Homo sapiens: one gene and its partner. The protein of the gene in region 2 interacts with the protein of the main gene of each other region in a pairwise test. Each region holds a gene or a part of one and is shown on either strand. Other genes may lie near its edges.

Region 1 (3,816 bases), on a different chromosome or scaffold from region 2:
AATCCCAGCTACTTGGGAGGCTGAGGCAGGAGAATCGCTTGAACCCGGGAGATGGAAGCTGTGATGAGCCGAGATCACGCCATTGCACTCCAGCCTGGGCAATAAGAGCAAATACAAAAAGTAGCCAGGTGCGGTGGCTCATGCCTGTGAAACTCCGTTTCAAAAAAAGAAAAAAAAAAAAAAAAGAAATTAGTAGGGCATAGTGGCGTGCACCTGTAATCCCAGCTACGCAGGAGGCTGAGGCAGGAGAATCCCTTGAACTGGGGAGGCAGAGGTTGCAGTGAGCTGAGATCATGCCACTGCACTCCAGCCTGGGCAACAGAGTGAAACTGTCTCAGAAAAAGAAAAAAAATTAGCCGGGTGTGGTGGTGGGCTCCTGTAATCCCAGCTACTCGGGAGGCTGAGGCAGGAGAATCGCCTGAACCCAGACAGTGGAGGTTGCAGTGAGTTGAGATTGTGCTACTGCACTCTAGTGTGGGTGACCCAGACAGACTCAGTCACACACAAACACACAAAGTCCAGTTCTCTCATAATGGCCGTATACACCACAATCTGAACACCAGCATCAGCTGCAATTCCCAACATTGGCATTTTGAGTTGGGCAATGATAAGGACGGAAGGTACTTTAGAGGCAACCCAAATGCCTTGAACTGAAAATTAGGATCTTCCCCATCTCCAGGCCTGAATATTGGACAAGATTTTCTTGCAGAAGAGCAGGAGCTCCCTTATATTTGAATTGTGACAAAGTCTCTTATATAGTTGAATGATTTATTACTTTTTTTTGAGATGGAGTCTCACTCTGTCACCCAGTTTGGAATGCAGTGGTACAATCTTGGCTCACTGCAGCTTCTGCCTCCCAGGCTCAAGCAATTCTCGTGCCTCAGCCTCCCGAGTAGCTGGGATTACAGGAGTGTGCCCCCATGCCCGGCTAATTTTCATATTTTCAGTAGAGATGGGGTTTCACCATATTGGCAGGGCTGGTCTCCAACTCCTGACCTCAAATGATTTGCCCAGGTAGGCCTCCCAAAGTGCTGGGATTACAGGTGTGAGCCACAGCGCCTGGCCTTAATTACTTAAAAAAAAAACAAAAACACTAGGTATGTTTGGGGATCACTAAAAAGCCAAAGAGTAAGTAGTTATATTTTGGCATTTGTAAGTATACACCTATACGATGAATGAAAGAACTGTTCTAATGTTGTGCAGAATACTCGTGGCTTTTGATAAAATTTCCAGGATCAGCACCATACAAAAATTCAAGCTGTATTTTATTTTTATTTTTTGAGAGGGAGTCTTGCTGTGTCACTCCGCCTGGAGTGCAATGGTGCAACCGTGGCTCACCGCAACGTCCGCCCCCCAGGCTCAAGTGATTCTCCTGTTTCAACTTCCCGAGTAGCTGGAATTATGGATGCCTGCCACCATGCCTGGCTAATTTTTGTATTTTTAGTAGAGATGGGGTTTTACCACGTTGGCTGGGCTGGTCTCAGACTCCCGACCTCAAATGATCTGCCTACCTCAGCCTCCCAAAGTGCTGGGATTACAGGCATGAGCCACCACACCTGGCCTGTATTTTACTCAATTTTGGTAAAAGAAAAGATAATGTGCTTTGGAAAATTTTAGAATGACAATGATATTAATGAAGAAGTATTTGCAGTTTGACTAAAACTAGCTGATTCTGGAATGATACAGTAGCTTGGAAAGATTTTTCAAATTCTTGTCTATTTTTTTTTTTTTTGAGACAGAGTCTTGCTCTGTAGCCTAGACTGGAGTGCAGTGGTGCAGAGATCTCACTGCAACCTCTGACTCCTGGGTTCAAGCGATTCTCCTGCCTCAGCCTCCTGAGTAGCTGGGATTACAGGTGCCCGCCACTACGCCCAGCTAATTTTTTGTATTTTTAGTAGAGGCAGGGTTTCACCATGTTGGCCAGGCTGGTCTTGAACTCCTGACCTCGTGATTTGCCTGCCTCGGCCTCCCAAAGTGCTGGGATTACAGGCGTGAGCCACCGTGCCTGGTCCCTCAAAGTAGATTTATCACATTGACCACACTCCTTTTTTTGTAGGTCTTCTCTCTGAGGACTTGACTTATTTGGAGAATTAAAGTGCTGCAGTGAAGCCTAGAAGTGGACACTAGAGTCCGAAGTTTTTGTCTCCTAACGCTCAGTACAGCACAAGTGAAAACATTTTCACTGCCGAGGCATGGGTTAAAAAACGTTCTTTTAAACAGTTGCTTTCCTTACAAATATATATTCCACTGGAGGAGTCAAAAGAAGCAACATAAACCACAAACCAAGGAGAAACCTCAAAACTAAAGAAACCAGGGACACACAGGGCAAGTCACACTTACTTAAGAGATCCTGACAGCTTGGGCTGCTGAAGAAGTTTATCTGCATGATTCAAAGCCATGAGGTTATCACCCAAAGCCAGAGCCACGTAGGCACTGCAAGCAAGTATGGAGCACCTATAACACAAAAGGGAAGGGGCCGAAAATCTCATTTTAAACATTGATAATGGTTATATTTGCTAAATAGGAAGAAATGCCCTTTAGCTGTGACAATCTGGACACCAGGAAAGAGGAGAGGAAGCCACGGTACTAATGGTAAGAATTAGATTGATGTATAAAACAATTCTGAAACACAGTTTGGCTATTTACATAAGTCATCTTTAGCTTTCATCCAATTGACCCACATCCCCAACAAAATAACCAATGGATTACAATACATAGCCTGTATGTATGTATGTATGTATATATGTATAGATAAATACACACACACACACACACACACACTATATATATATAGCCTAATGAGAACTAACTTCCATAGAAGTTTGCTTTTAATAACCTAGGAATAAAGCTATAGAATGAGATCTTATTCTTTCTACATATATTTGTGATATGCTAAGAAATAATTAACTTACTAAAGCATTCATTTACTTTAAATGTTCTTTTCTCAACCAATTAAGTCTACAGTTCTTGCTAAACCATAGTATCAAGAGTAACTAAAAAGTTTTATTCACACAGTTACTATTCTTCTAAAGGAATACTGAAGGAAAAAAAACAGGTTAAACAAACATATGTGAAGACAACGTTTAAGTTACATTGATTTCGCTAAGTTGGATTGGAAATCTAAGTTTCTATAATATTTGGTTTTCTACTTCACAGACAGCTCATTTAAAACAAGTCTGGTTAAAGACTTAATACTAATAGATCACTTGAATGTTAAACAACTGCTCCACAAAGCAATCTTAAAATAAACCCTTGTCAAATAGAAATGAAGTCTGAATGGCTAACCACAAATGACCTCACTCAGATACAGGGTTTTGAGTTATGTTTACAAATTACAATACACATATGTATCATTAAGTGCATTCAGGTTGTAATTTTAGTCTAAGGAAGAATGTAACCAGTATATCACCACAGAGTTTTGAAATGTTCTGAAATCCTCTGACTAGAAATGGCTCTTCCTATAAAAAGCACAGCTGGGCAAATTCAAAAGTATTCTGTTTCCTCTTCACTTGCTAACTTTTGGTTCCTAGAATCTTAGAAAACTACCCTAGAATTTGGTTCCTAGAATCTTAGAAAGGCAGCCCCTCAACTCTTAACAACACAGAAAAGTAGAGTGGTCCTTGAGAAGCATAACGAAATTGAGGTTTATGCCTTATACTACCATGGGAGGGCTGAAAGACTGTCTAGTGTGGTTCCTTGTTTAACTGATGTGGAAACAGAGACTCAAAGTGAGTAAACATAATCTTTAGCTTAGTGTGTGATTAGTTAGGTCTAATATTTGACATTGTAGACTCCCAATCCGCTGTTCTTCCCATC
Region 2 (3,816 bases):
AAGGAACAGAAGCAGCTCAGAGTGCCGCTGGGGCCCTGACATCCCCATGGGGCTCCCATCCCCACCCCGCCACCTCTGCCCGCACAGGCTCACCGTGGCCTGGGCAGCGATGAGAGCGGCCAGCATACTGCGGCCGGGGGGCCCAGGGGCGCAGAAGGAGACTCGCAGGTGGCTGCCCCCCAGGGACAGGCCGTCCGCCTGCTGCTGTGCCTCCTCCGCCATCTCAGCCGTCTCATACTCCAGCACCGCGAAGCCCTTCAGCTGCCCATCCTGGCCGCACGCCAGCTGCCGGAGGAAGGCAGGCAGTCATGAGCATCTGGGCAGCAGTGACTGCACCACCCCGGGAAGTGACAACCGTAACCAGACTCAGCTGCCCCATAAGGGTGAACTCCACGCCAGGCCTCCACTGCCCTGTGCCTCATTCCTGCATCAGCTCATCTGATTTTCCCAATGACCCTGGGAGGCTGCATCATACCCATTTCTCAGAGAAGGCAACTGAGGCACGGAGAGGTCAGCGCACCCAAGGCCACACAGCTGGAGGGAGGGCGGAGCTGGGAGCCACCTCACCAACAAAGCCAAGGCCACGGGCGGATGCGGTGGCTCACACCTGTAATCCCAGCACTTTGGGAGGCCGAGGCGGGCAGATAACCTGAGGTCGGGAGTTCGAGACCAGCCTGACCAACATGGAGAAACCCCGTCTCTACTAAAAATACAAAATTAGCCAGGCGTGGTGGCACATGCCTGTATTCCCAGCTACTTGGGAGGCTGAGGCAGAGGCAAGAGAGTCACTTGAACCTGTGAGGCAGAGGTTGCGGTGGGCCGAGATCGCGCCACTGCACTCCAGCCTGGGCAACAAGAGCAAAACTCCATCTCAAAAAAAAAAAAAAAAAAGAGATAATCAGCAACGGGTGGGGAAGGAAGGGCTCTCGTTCCAGACAGTGGCCAAGCCAGGTAGCAGTGCTAAGGGAAGTGGTTGGGCTGGGCACCGGCACTTGCTGAATGCCCGGGCAGCAAAGGTGCAGGTAGCAGCCCTTCACCTCTGCCCACGCCCTGTGCCAAGGTCTGGGCACAGATCTCCCATAACCAAACCTGTCGGCTTTTGTTTTGTTTTGTTTTTTTTGAGACAGAGTCTTGCTCTGTCACCCCGGAGTGCAGTGATGTGAACTTAGCTTACCGTAACCTCCACCTCCTGGGTTCAAGTGATTCTCCTGCCTCAGCCTCCTGGTAGCTGGGATTACAGGTGTGCACCACCACGCCCAGCTAATTTTTGTATTTTTAGTAGAAATGAGGTTTCACCATGTCGGCAAGGCTGGTCTTGAACTCCTGACCTCAAGCGATCCGCCTGCCTTGGCCTCCCAAAGTGCTGGATTACAGGCGTGAGCCACTGTGCCCGGCCATAAACACACCCATCTTAGGGATGAACAGAGAGAGACTCAGAGGGGTCACAGAGTGATCAAGGCCACACAATTCCTAAGTCGAGGGACTGATGTGTGAACCTCAAGCTGCTTCACTGTCAAGCCCACCCTCCATTCAGCTGGGTCACCTAACATTAAAGGTGGGCTCCTCGGAGGACATCACTTCAACGCCTGCTACTCATCAGATGCTCAACAAATGTTTGGTGAGACCAGGCCCAGTGGCTCGAATCTATAATCCCAGCTCTTTGGGAGGCAAAGGCAGGAGGATCGTTTGAGCACAGGAGTTTCAGACCAGCCTGGGCAACATAGGGAGACCCCATCTTCACATAATTTTTTTTTTTTTTGAGGGAGTCTCGCTCTGTTGCCCAGGCTGGAGTGCGGTGGCATGATCTTGGCTCACTGCAACCTCCACCTCCCTGGTTCAATCAATTCTCCTGCCTCAGCTTCCCGAGTAGCTGGGATTAAAGGCACCTACCACCACGCCTGGCTAATTTTTTTTCTATTTTTAATAGAGACAGGGTTTTTGTTTTTTGTTTTGTTTTTTTTGAGACGGAGTCTCGCTCTGCCACCCAGACTGGAATGCAGTAGTGGGATCTTGGCTCACCACAACCTCTGTCTCCCAGGTTCAGGTGATTCTTCTGCCTCAGCCTCCCAAATAGCTGGGACCACAGGCACATGCCACCACACCCAGCTAATTTTTTTTTTTGTATTTTTAATGGAGATAGGGTTTCACCATGTTAGCCAGGATGGCCTCGATCTCCAGACCTCGTGATGCACCCACCTCGGCCTCCCAAAGTGCTGGGATTACAGGCGTGAGCCACCGTGCCATGAGACAGGGTTTTACCATGTTGGCCAGGCTGGTTTCGAACTCCTGACCTCAAGTGATCTGCCCGCCGCAGCCTCCCAAAGTGCTGGGATTACAGGCATGAGCCACTGTGCCCGGCCTCTACATAAAATTTTAAAAATCAGCTGGGCATGGTGATGCATTCCTGTAGTTCCCCAGCTACATGGGAGGCCAAGGTAGGAGGATTTCTTGAACCCAGGAGGTCGAGGCCGGAGTGTACTCCTCCAGCCTGGGTGATTGAGAACCTGTCTCAAAAAAAAAAAAAATTAAGTTTAGTGAATGTTCGAGTGGAGGAATGAATGGGCAGCTGTTCACAACAACCTGATCATGAAGCACTGCCAGCCCCATTTTGAGATGTGGAAACAGGCTAGGAGAGTACCTGTAGCTGGTCATGACCCTGTGACCTTTGATCTCCACATAAGAAGGTAAGGCCAGGCCAGCGCAGTGGCTCACACCTGTAATCTCAGCACTTGGGGAGGCCGAGGCAGGTGTATCACCTGAAGTCAGGAGTTCAAGACCAGCCTGGCCAACACGGCGAAACCCCATCTCTATTAAAAACACAAAAATTAGCTGGGTGTGGTGTCAGGCGCTGTCATCCCAGCTACTCGGGAGGCTGAAGCTGGAGAATCACTTGAACCCAGGAGGCGGAGGATGCAGTGAGCCAAGATCGCGCCCCTGCACTCCAGACTGGGTGACAGAGCAAGACTCTGTCTTAAAAAAATATAAAATAAAATAAAAGAAAGGTGAGGCCATTGTGCTAACTCATCTTCTGTCCTGAGCCCGCACAGGCGGCCTGGTACATAGCAGGCCTGGTACGTAGCAGGTGTCCAAGAGAAAGCAGCAGAATGGATGAATGATAAGTAAACAGAGAGGGGGTTCCCGTGGCTCATGGATACTCAGTTTTTGTTTTTTTTGTTTCTTTGAGACGGAGTCTCGCTCTGTCGCCCAGGCTGGAGTGCAGCGGCACGATCTCCACTAACCGCAACCGCAGTCTTCTGGGTTCAAGCAATTCTCCTGTCTCAGCCTCCTGAGTAGCTGAGATTACAGGCGCGTGGCGCCATGCCTGGCTACCTTTTTTTTTTTGTTGTATTTTTAGTAGAGACGGGATTTCTCCATGTTTGTCAGGCTGGTCTCAAACTCCTGACCTCAGGTGATCCGTCCGTCTCGGCCTCCAAAGAGCTGGCATTACAAGCGTGAGCCACTGCGCCTGGCCTGTTTTTTTTTTTTTTTTTTTTTCTGTTTTTGAGATGCAGTGTTGCTTTGTCACCCAGGCTGGAGTACAGTGGCGTGATCTCAGCTCACTGCAACCTCCACCTCCCAGGTACAAGCGATTCTCCTGCCTCAGCCTCCTGAGTAGCTGGGATTACAGGCCTGCACCACCACACCTGGCTAATTTTTTTTGTATTTTTAGTAGAGACAGGGTTTCACCATGTTGGCCAGGCTGGTCTTGAACTCTTGACCTCAAGTGATCCACCTGCCTCGGCCTCTCAAAGTGCTGGGATTACATGCATGAGCCACCTCACCCAGCCTGTTTCTTGTTTTAAATATAGAGATGGT

The links.
Region 1: the proteins of RAVER1 (region 2) and CNOT10 interact in binary tests that used the Homo sapiens proteins (3 or more experiments, as listed by UniProt).

What each region holds. Positions count from the first base shown.
Region 1 is NC_000003.12:32,758,096-32,761,911, reverse strand, and holds part of CNOT10 (CCR4-NOT transcription complex subunit 10), read right to left. Parts: intron 2,455-3,816; coding exon 2,341-2,454; intron 1-2,340. UniProt on the Homo sapiens protein: Component of the CCR4-NOT complex which is one of the major cellular mRNA deadenylases and is linked to various cellular processes including bulk mRNA degradation, miRNA-mediated repression, translational repression during translational initiation and general transcription regulation.
Region 2 is NC_000019.10:10,323,282-10,327,097, forward strand, and holds part of RAVER1 (ribonucleoprotein PTB-binding 1), read right to left. Parts: intron 286-3,816; coding exon 94-285; intron 1-93. UniProt on the Homo sapiens protein: Cooperates with PTBP1 to modulate regulated alternative splicing events. Promotes exon skipping. Cooperates with PTBP1 to modulate switching between mutually exclusive exons during maturation of the TPM1 pre-mRNA.